Homo sapiens: one gene and its partners. The protein of the gene in region 1 interacts with the protein of each later gene in a pairwise test. Each region holds a gene or a part of one and is shown in the gene's direction. Other genes may lie near its edges. The genes, in order: EFHC2, FAM221B and RHOBTB3.

Evidence for each region.
Region 2: the proteins of EFHC2 (region 1) and FAM221B interact in binary tests that used the Homo sapiens proteins (3 or more experiments, as listed by UniProt).
Region 3: the proteins of EFHC2 (region 1) and RHOBTB3 interact in binary tests that used the Homo sapiens proteins (3 or more experiments, as listed by UniProt).

What each region holds. Positions count from the first base shown.
Region 1 is NC_000023.11:44,333,610-44,337,266, reverse strand, and holds part of EFHC2 (EF-hand domain-containing family member C2), read left to right. Parts: intron 1-3,657. UniProt on the Homo sapiens protein: Microtubule inner protein (MIP) part of the dynein-decorated doublet microtubules (DMTs) in cilia axoneme, which is required for motile cilia beating.
Region 2 is NC_000009.12:35,815,772-35,818,770, reverse strand, and holds the end of FAM221B (protein FAM221B), read left to right. Parts: exon of another isoform or gene 1-264; coding exon 265-302; coding exon of another isoform or gene 303-324; 3' UTR 325-2,380; downstream 2,381-2,999.
Region 3 is NC_000005.10:95,783,284-95,786,940, forward strand, and holds part of RHOBTB3 (rho-related BTB domain-containing protein 3), read left to right. Parts: intron 1-513; coding exon 514-680; intron 681-3,657. UniProt on the Homo sapiens protein: Rab9-regulated ATPase required for endosome to Golgi transport. Involved in transport vesicle docking at the Golgi complex, possibly by participating in release M6PRBP1/TIP47 from vesicles to permit their efficient docking and fusion at the Golgi.

The sequences.
Region 1 (3,657 bases):
GGGAAAAAAAACCCAAAACAGATAGTTAAACTTAGCTTACCTTTCTTTCCTTTCCATACATTCAAAAAACTTTTCAGTCAGCATAATATAAACATGTTAAATAATTCAAGTTATTTCTGTTTATATCTAAGATGGAATTTACTTTTTCAAAAAGTAGGCTAAGATGATTTAATTTAAATAAAGGTTGTAAACTCGTAATTAATGCTGTTTTCAACATCAAAATGTATTGACAATGTTACATAATAAAGCTACTAAAACTATATGACAAAGCATTATGAGTAAAAATATAACCTAAGATATAATTTTATACAAGACTTAAAAATTAGGTTCTTTTACTGACTGACATGATTGGGCTTAAATATAGGCAGTTACAAAATTATAATCTTGATTTCTTTATAGACCTGTATGTACATAACAGTCTTATTTTTTAAAAGCTAAAAATAAATAATAAAATTTACCTCTCCACTCTGAAATCTGTGTTTATATTTTGCCACATAAATAATTCCGGGTCAAGCTTGAAATAAGCACACATCAATTTCATTTTCAACTGGAATGAGAAGATTTCTGGCCTTTTCAATACTTGTTAAACAAGGAAAGCTTTGCTTACATGTATAAGAAGTTGAAAATTATAGCAAAATGGTCATTGCTCTCCTATGAATGGCAGGATGCTTACTTTTATGTAAATTTTGAACTGGCCATATGGTAGGTGTGTGTTTATCTTGATAAGAAATTACCATTTTGCATTCCCACCAGCAATGATTGAGAATTTCTGTTATTCCAAATCCTTGTAAGCAATTGGTATTGCCAGTGTTTTGGATTTTAGCCATTTTAATAGGTGTATAGTGGTATCTCCTCTTTTCTCTCTCTCTCTTTTTTTTTTTTGAGACTGAGTCTCACTCTGTCGCCCAGGGGAGTGTAGTGGCGCGATCTTGGCTCACTGCAACCCTCTGCCTCCCAGTTCAAGCTATTCTTCTGCCTCAGCCTCCCGAGTAGCTGAGATTACAGGTGTGTGCCACCACGCCCGGCTAATTTTTGTATTTTGGGTAGAGACGGGGTTTCACCATGTTGGCCAGGCTGGTCTTGAACTCCTGACCTCAGGTGATCCACCCACCTCGGCCTCCCAAAGTGCTGAGATTACAGGCCTGAGCCACCACACCCGGCCTGGTATCTCCTCTTGATTTTAATTTTTATTTCCCTAATGGCTATGATGTTGAACATCTTTTTATGTGCTTATTTGCCATCCGTATATCCCCTTTGGTGAAATGTCTGTTCGTGTCTTCTACTCATATTTAATTGGGGAGTTTCCTTACTTGAATTCCTGACCTCAGGCGATCCGCCTGATGAGTTTTGAAAGTCATTTTTAATATAGTCTGGATACAAGTTGGGTGCAAGTCTATTATTGAATGTATGGTCTGTAAATATTTTGTTCCAGTCTATGGCTTGAATTTTCATTCTCTTAAAGCAAGGCTAAAAAATATGTACATATATTTAAGGATAAAATATAACATGAGTTCAAAAACTATTGTTTTCAATGCAAATTAAGGATTATAGGGTTTTTACTTCTTTGATTTTATATATTTACATGTAATCTTGCTTCATAAGTACATTAGCTGAATTACTTATCCTAACATAAATAAAAATATACAACCATATAATAATTTTTAATTAATAATAACATTATTAACAATTTGAGTTTTGAAAATAGTTTAAGATTTCTTTATAGCTATTTCTGTTGTGAGAGTATATCCCACCAGGAATGTATAGTCAAATTACTGGGTTTTAGTTTCATTTAAATCATTGCTGTCGGTATGGTTAAGTCACCAACTCAGTATCTAGTTAGGTTCATTTGTTTCATTGTGCTTTTGTTTCTGAACTTAAAAAAAGGCATTTGTATGGTCTCAAAGTCAAATTTGCAAAGTAAGTTACTTTCAGAGAGCTCTAGCTTTTATCTCTGTCTCTTCAATCTTATTCTCTCCCTCTCTCCATAATAACTTAAAGAAAAAACTTTATTTAGTTTGAGGTTATCCTCTTTCTCTTCCTCCTTCTCTTCTTTCTTTTTTTTTTAATTTTTAAAACAGCAAATTGTTAAATTTATTCACATGTTCCCCTTTTATTCAATACTTGGTAGCATAATCTACACAGTCTTTTGAACCTTCCTTTTTTCATTTTAACAGTATATCTTGGAGATCACTTGGTAGTGGTATATAGGGCTCTTCCTCATTTCTTTTTATAGTTACATAGTACTCCATTTTGTAGACTTACAATAGTTTATTCAACCATCCCCTTTTGGTGTACAGTTACATTATTTCCAGTCTTTTGTTATCCAATAATGTTGCAATAAATAGCCAAACTGTGCTTCAAAAGACACTATCAGAAAAGTGAAAAAGCAGCTGACAGTGTGGGAGGAAATATTTATAAAGCATATTATCTGATAAGGGACTATATTCAGAATATGTAAATAACTCCCAAAACTCAATAATAAAAAGACAAATAGGCCAGGTGCGGTGGCTCATGCCTGTAATCCCAGCACTTTGGGAGGCTGAGGCAGGCGGATCACCTGAGGTCAGGAGTTTGAGACCAGCCTGACTAACATGGAGAAACCTGTCTCTACTAAAAATACAAAACTAGCCGGGCGTGGTGGCGCATGCCTGTAATCCCAGCTACTCGGGAGGCTGAGACAGGAGAATCACTTGAACCTGGGAGGCAGAGGTTGTGGTGAGCCGAGATCGCACCATTGCACTCCAGCCTGGGCAACAAGAGTGCAACTTCATTTCAAAAAGCCAACAAACAAACAAAAAGGCAAATAATCCAGTTTTGGTGGTATGGGATTGCTGGGCAGACAAAACAATTGCTGTCTACTATGCTAGATCACAGGATAGTTTTGATATAAAGAATTCTGTCACTTTGTTCCCAGTAACTATTAAAATATCCTTGAAATTACATTATTTCAGATTGGGCCGCTTATTGAAGCTGCCATCCATACTTTGGAAATAACATATTCCATTGCTATTCCTAAATGTTCATTTGAATTTCAGGAATTAGAGTCTCTTTGCCTATGTAGGATTCAAACACCTAATTTTGGTCACCATGCATTCTGTACTGAACTTCGTAGCTCTGTCACCTAGGGTACATTTGACTATAAGTCACAGAATACCTGACTAACAGTGGTTTAAGCCAAATTAATTTTCTCATAAGAACTTTAGAGGTGTAGCAGTTTCAGATTTAGGCAGTGACTGATGAATGTCATAAAGAACCCAGGCTCTTTTTATCTCTGCATTCTGCCATCTTCAGAATATTGGCTTTTCTTTCTTAGGCTTGTGACCTCATAGTTGCAAAATAGTTGCCTCAGTTCCAGTCATCACAACTACATGTAACCATGTTCAAGACAAGCAGGAAGGAGAGGGAGGGGAAACAGCTCTTCTTATATGAGAAAACAAAATGTTTTCCAGGAGCCCCCCAGTAGATTCCCTCCTTCCATCTTATTTGCTAAAATTGATGCACATGGCCATCCTTTACTACAAGGAATGCTGGGAAATTATCTTGTTTTTTTTTTCACCATCTACTTTTGGAGGTGGGAAAGGGAAAAGAGGGTTCAATAGTGGCCAACAAACTTTGTCACACCAGCCACAGACAATACCTGTGAGTCTGGTATTGTCA
Region 2 (2,999 bases), on another chromosome or scaffold:
CCCCACCACCCACCTACCTGCATCCCACATCTGCACTGGTTTTCACCCCCAGGAGCAGACTATGTACCTTTTGCAGAGATGGCTGTGCTCCGAGAAGCCATCCTCAGCAACTCTGACTTCTAGGCCCTGCAGATACAGGGGCCCTCTGGCCTTCCCAGCTCCCACCCTAGTCCCCCGGGGCTCCCTGGTTCACACGGTCTCCAGCCTGGCCTCCCTTCTGACCCCCATACCTGACCCTTTCACCTCTGCTCTTTCTTCCTCCAGGGACAGACACTGTCAGCAACTGGCACAGGCCTTTGTGAGTCTGGCCCAGATCAGCAATAAAAGAGGAGTCATTGGAACCTGACTTGGCTCTATATGGGGCAGGTAGATCCCAGCCCAGGGAGAGACTGCCTAATAACTTAGAGTTGACACCTATTAGACACAGGAGAAAGCCTGGATCTGGCCATCTGCCTCCATCACACTCACATTCAAGCTGCCTGTTGAAGGAAAGTGGCTTCAAGGAAGTCAAGAAGGGAGGAAGTTTCAAGAAGGATAGAGTGGGAAGTGATGTTAGATGCAGTTGGGGCACCAATAAGATAAAGACTGAAAAGTGTCCATTGGGTTTTGCAATTAGAAGATCTTTGGGAACATCGGAGAGTGCAGTTTCACACTGGTGCAGTGGAGGCAGGAGTCAAACAGCAGTGAGTTTCAAGGAGTCTCTTAAAGAAGCTTGGATGAAAAGTACAAAAGTAAAGTCAGACAATATCCAGAGGGAGTTGTGGAGTCAAGGAAGTACTTTTGTAGGAAGGAAAAGGGGAAGAGGCCAGTAGACTAAAGGACCTTGAAGGACCCAGAAGAGAGAGAAGAGATGCCTGGTGAGACAAGATCCCAGAGATGGAGGAAAGGGATGAGGTCAAAGCAGAGGTGAAGGGATTTTCTCTGGACAGGAGAAACACCACTTCCTATGACCAAGACGAAGGAAGAGGATGGAGCCTTCCTAGAGTTTCAGGGAACAAGAACCTGTGGAAGTTCCCCTCTGATGGCTTCTATATGCCCTGTGAAGTAGGAGATAAGGCCAATGGCTGGGGTCCAGGGGAAGAGGGATAAGAGTAGGGAGCAGGAGACAAGAAGAGAAAGGGGAAGGTTTGGGAAGGCTAATGTAGGGAACTGGAGAAAAACCTCATCAGTGGGTAGTTCAGGATTCGGGCACAGTTGGAAGTGAGAACCTAGTTAGAGAAGCAGAGAATCCAAATATTTAATGGGTTGATGATGTGAGGGTGTCAGGGAGGAAGATCAGGAAAACTAAGCAAAAGAAGGCATGAGGATGTGAAGGGAGCATACAGCACCAATAGGGAAAGAAAGTGATGCCAGGAGGCAAATGACAGATTGAAAAAGGGAGCAGTCAAAGGAAGAGAAGTCTCTAATGAGGTACAGTAGCAGACGTAGGGGCAGGGGTTGGAGTACAAGAGACAGTGTTCAGAGGCTGCAGAGCATAACATCTTTCAGATGAGGGCAAGTGAAGGTGATAAGTGCTTGAAGTAGAGAAAACTGTGGGCCAAGGATCAAAATCAGTGAATGTGGGAAGTCACAAGGGAGTCCATAGGTTCTTATGGGAGTAGGAGATTCCAGCACTAATGGGCTCTGTGAACCCAGGCAAGTCACTGTCCCTCTTTAGGCTGAGTTTCTGGACCTGTAAAACAGGAATAACCTCTGTGTTGCCTACTTTCTATGAGAACCAAAGAAATAACTAATTTCAAAGTGCTTTGTATCCACCTATCCTCCAGACTGGCTTCCTTCCTCTTCCTAGATCCCAGATCCACTTATCTCTCGCCCTTCTCCAGGGCAACTCTAGGGTCTCCCAGTGTCCCAGAGGCACCACAGAGAACTGCAGCCTCTGGGGCCCAGAGAAGAGGCCATTCTACATTTCCTCACAATTAGGGGGGCCATCTGTTCCTCCAAGGGAAGGAATGCAATCTGGACTGCTAGGATCCCTGGGGAAAATCACAGAATCAAATGTCTGCCCTTTAGAGGAGAAAGGATTTTCTAACAATAATATAGCTATACAAAAGAGATTGTTATATCTCTAGAAGCAAAGTTCCCCAACAGTGGTTATATGCCCCATGATAACCATTCACCTAAAACTAATTCAACTAATAGTCAACAATAGAGTTAGGATTACTATGATAAACTCATTGAAGGAAATAATAAGCAGCCAATACAAACTATATTTACGTAGACTGTAAAAATATGAAAAATTGATTACACATGGGTTAGTATCATATGCAATACATATTACATATTATGAAAAAAAGACAGGAAACACCAAATGTTATTCATTCAACAATTACTGACCACCTATATGTATCAGGTCATGTGTTTAAAAAAAAAAAAAAGAAAAAAAGAAAAACCAAAGAAACAGTGGTAACTTGTCCTATGTGATATCAGACTAAAACTTACCTAGCGTCTGAGAATATTAGTATTTTGTGACCCCACGTTTCTTATGTCAAAAATATATATTCCAGCAGTGCAAACCTGACTTATTGGTGCCTCATACCTGTAATCCCAGCACCTTGGGAGGCCGAGGCAGGAGGATCACGAGGTCAGGAGATCGAGACCATCCTGGCTAACACGGTGAAACCCCGTCTCTAATAAAAATACAAAAAATTAGCCGGGCGTGGTGGCGGGTGCCTGTAGTCCCAGCTACTCGGGAGGCTGAGGCAGGAGAATGGCGTGAACTCGGGAGGCGGAGCTTGCAGTGAGCCGAGATCGCGCCACTGCACTCCAGCCTGGGCGACAGAGCGAGACTCCGTCTCAAAAAAAAAAAAAAAGAAAAAAGAAAAAAAGAAAAAAAAAGAAAACACCAGGCACCGAGCTAACTGTATCACACACCTTTTCCGATTAGAAAAGAACAATGAATACATACTCCTTTGCTTATTATAATTCTTGTGCGGCAAATATAGGACACTCTTATCTCCTCCTGCTCAAAAAAAAAAAATGCAAAAACCACAGACTTTTTA
Region 3 (3,657 bases), on another chromosome or scaffold:
GCTAATTTTTTTTTATTTTTAGTAGAGATGAGGTTTCACCATGTCCGCCAGGATGGACTTGATTTCTTGACCTCGTGATCCGCCCACCTCGGCCTCCCCAAGTGCTGGGATTACAGGTGTGAGCCACTGCGCCGGCCCTTCTTTTTAAAATGGAATAATAGGCCGGGTGTGATGGCTCACATCTGTTATCCCAGCACTTTGGGAGGCCAAAGTAGGAGGATCATTTGAGCTCAGGAGTTCAAGACCAGCCTGGGCAACATAGTGAGACCTGTCTCTACAAAAAAAAAAAAAAAAAAAAAAAAGAAGAAGAAGAAAGGAAAGAAAAAAAAGATAAAATGGAATAAAAGTGCAGAATGCTGACTCCCTCGAGGCTTTTCCTAACCATTCTATTCTATGGTGGATGCTACGGTCAGCATGTTTTTTTAATTGTTGTTTTTTGTTGGTGGGGGGTGTTTAGATCATTAAAGAAATGGTTTCATCATCCACTTTCTCTCATGTCCCTTTTCTCATCAGCTGGCATATTCCAGGCCATGTGTCTCCTGATCTGTGCCGAGATGTACCAAGTGTCCAGACTGCAGCACATCTGTGAGCTGTTCATCATTACCCAGCTGCAGAGCATGCCAAGCAGGGAACTGGCATCCATGAACCTTGATATAGTTGACCTGCTTAAAAAGGCCAAGGTAATTGACTCTGTGTATCTGATAGCCTAGTTTTTTATAAAATATTTTTCAAATTATACTATTTTAAAATTTATCATTTTTTAACATACGTTAATACTAGTCTTAGTTTGGAAGTTTGGCTAATGAGGCTAAAGTGCCTTCACAACAGTTTATCTGGCTAGATAATTTTGAAGCGTTAGGGTTTGTGTGCAGTCCCTTTTATAAGGAGGCAAAATGTCCAGATACGGAATTTTTTTAACTAAATAGTGGCCCTTAGTAGAGTCATTTGAATGTGGTGCTATACTATGTCACATAGGCATTGTAGGAAATAGAATTTATGTTGAATTTCCCCAAACAATCACATCTTCAGGTTCCTAAAAGGGAAATGACAGAATTGGTCCATATATACTGATAGCGATGGTTAAGCTAAACTAATTTACTTCTTCATTTTTTCATCCATATAATGAACATGTTTTGAAGTTTCAGTTGTATGTAGGAGATATTGGTGTGCCTCATTTATCCTTGCAGAATGCCTTTTGTTTTCATGTCTCACCTTATTAGCAATCACTGCCGTATGTGTACATGCTTCTTCTGGGCCTCTTGTAAGCTCGGAGTCTTTTGTTTTCAATAATTATATCATTACTGATTTTAGAGAACGGGGGTGGGGGAGTTACATAATTAAGTTAATTTTAAGTAACTGCAGTTACAGAGGCCCTAAATTATGAATCAGAGCCAGGTCTGTAAATAAACTAGGACTACTGTGTTGAAATCTACTTCCCAAACCCCCAGATGTGCTCACAGTCAAAAACCTGCCAAATCCTTATTCCCACTTTCTTTCATTCCTGGAAGCAGAAAGCTTATTCAGATGGGCCATCCTACCGTTGGCCATTCTGCCATTCCATCCACTGCCCGAGACAGTTTCAGCACTTGTGGTAGTTATGGCACACTCTTGTGTACTCAACTTGTGGTAAGCCGAGCCCTCTAGGTTTTTTTCACAGGAATATATTTGTTCAATCACTACAGAGTGTCAGTACTTCTTGAACTATTATCTGGCATCCAACATGTCTATACCTATCAACTTTGACGTCCAGGGTTACAAAAGCATGACAACTTTTATCTCCATCCACATTGCTAAAATGGAGCCACATGATGGGGCAAATTCCAGATCTGTGACAGCTGAATGCTTGCCTCCAAGCTGAAACGAATTCATTCATCAACACTTCTGTTTATAGAAGGGAATTTATTTGAAGCATCTAGGTCTTCTCCTACTATCTCCTTAACTATTTTGGACTTCATTTCTCTCATAATCAAGTCTTACGATCACATGTATTTAATTAGGGCTAAAAACAAATTTAAAAATTGAGTAGGGCCAGGCGTGGTGGCTTACGCCTGGAATCCCAGCACTTTGGGAGGCCGAGGCTGGCGGATCACGAGGTCAGGAGATCGAGACCATCCTGGCTAACACAGTGAAGCCCAGTCTCTACTAAAAATACAAAAAAAAATTAGCTGGGTATAGTGGCGGGTGCCTGTAGTCCCAGCTACTTGGGAGGCTGAGGCAGGAGAATGGCGTGAACCCTGGAGGCGGAGCTTGCAGTGAGCCGAGATCGTGCCACTGCACTCCAGCCTGGGTGACAGAGTGAGACTCCGTCTCAAAAAAAAAAAAAAATTGAGTAACACTGATCTCTTTTTGTAAAACGTTTACATTCATCTCATGATAAATAGCTCCCCTCTAAATTTAGTTTACAATTTTTAAAATTCTTTCTAGTAGTTTCACAATCTCAGTTCATTTTTGATGTATCATTTTCATACTATTCTAACAAGTTGTTCATACTTTTTAAAAAATTGGACACAAGTTTCTTTTTCCTTATCTTTTAGTATCTTCTTAAATTGTTTATGTATAAGAGAACTTCCCGTGTGGTCACATTGATTTCTTTAGGTGCCTCCCCTCACTGCCCCCCTACACTTGGTTCCTCATCAGAATCATTTTTGATTGCACTGTCAGAAATTCTTGACTTGTTTTCCCTGATTCTCTGGTTTCTGACTCTGTGATTATCCTTATCTTTTCCCCTTGAATTTCAAACAATCTAAGATACAAGCTCATTTTGAATTTTGTTTCTGAAGACTTTTTATTTTCTAAGATTAAGCCTAAATTTACCAGTTTTCCTGTATTCTTTTCCTGGTGGTTCCTAATTTGGCAATTGTGAATTCCAGATAACAGAAGTTTTCTTCCCAAGTTTTCTTTGAAGTTCCTAGTTTGAGATTTCACTTCACCAGTCAGTTCACCCTGTTGGTCAGAATTTGGTTAACTTTTGCCTTGCCATTTCTCTGACTTTTAGGAGTGAAATTGTCTTCTGGCAGAATTAGACTCCCAGTAGCTCTCCAAATAATCAAAATTTCTGAACACTCTGCCAGTTTTGTACTGTGTGTCAGGAAACATCATTCATACTTTCTTAGATAGATGAGCAGTGTGGGTATTCTCTCACTTCTCTGTCCATTTTCCCCTAACCTCTCTCAGTTCTTTACCATGATTTACCTTCAGGTTTCCATCAAGGAGGACTCTTAAAATACAAGAGTTGAGGTGGAGATTCCGTATCTCTACTCCTGTTTAAACCCTATCTGTTCAAACTTTGGTGATTCCTATGAAGTTGTATTTATTCTTGTATTAAAAATTTTAATGCATCTTCTTATTTATAATCTATATGTTAATATTTGGCTATCTGAGGCACAAGTTGTATTTCTGAGAGTTTCCAGGTACTTTCTTGTGAGTTTATGGGTATTTTCTCCACGTTCTTCTTGTAGCTCTTAAGTTCTATTGCATTTGGTTTATGGTTTTTTAATGCCTTTTTAAAAATTCTGTTGCTTATTTCAGTTTGAACCCATTTTCTTACGTCAACACATATCCTTCTAAAACCTAGTTTTTACAGTGAGACATGTTCCATTCCTGTTACAGAGTCCCTAGACTATGAATCTGGGCCAGGTCTGTACATTAGCTAGAACT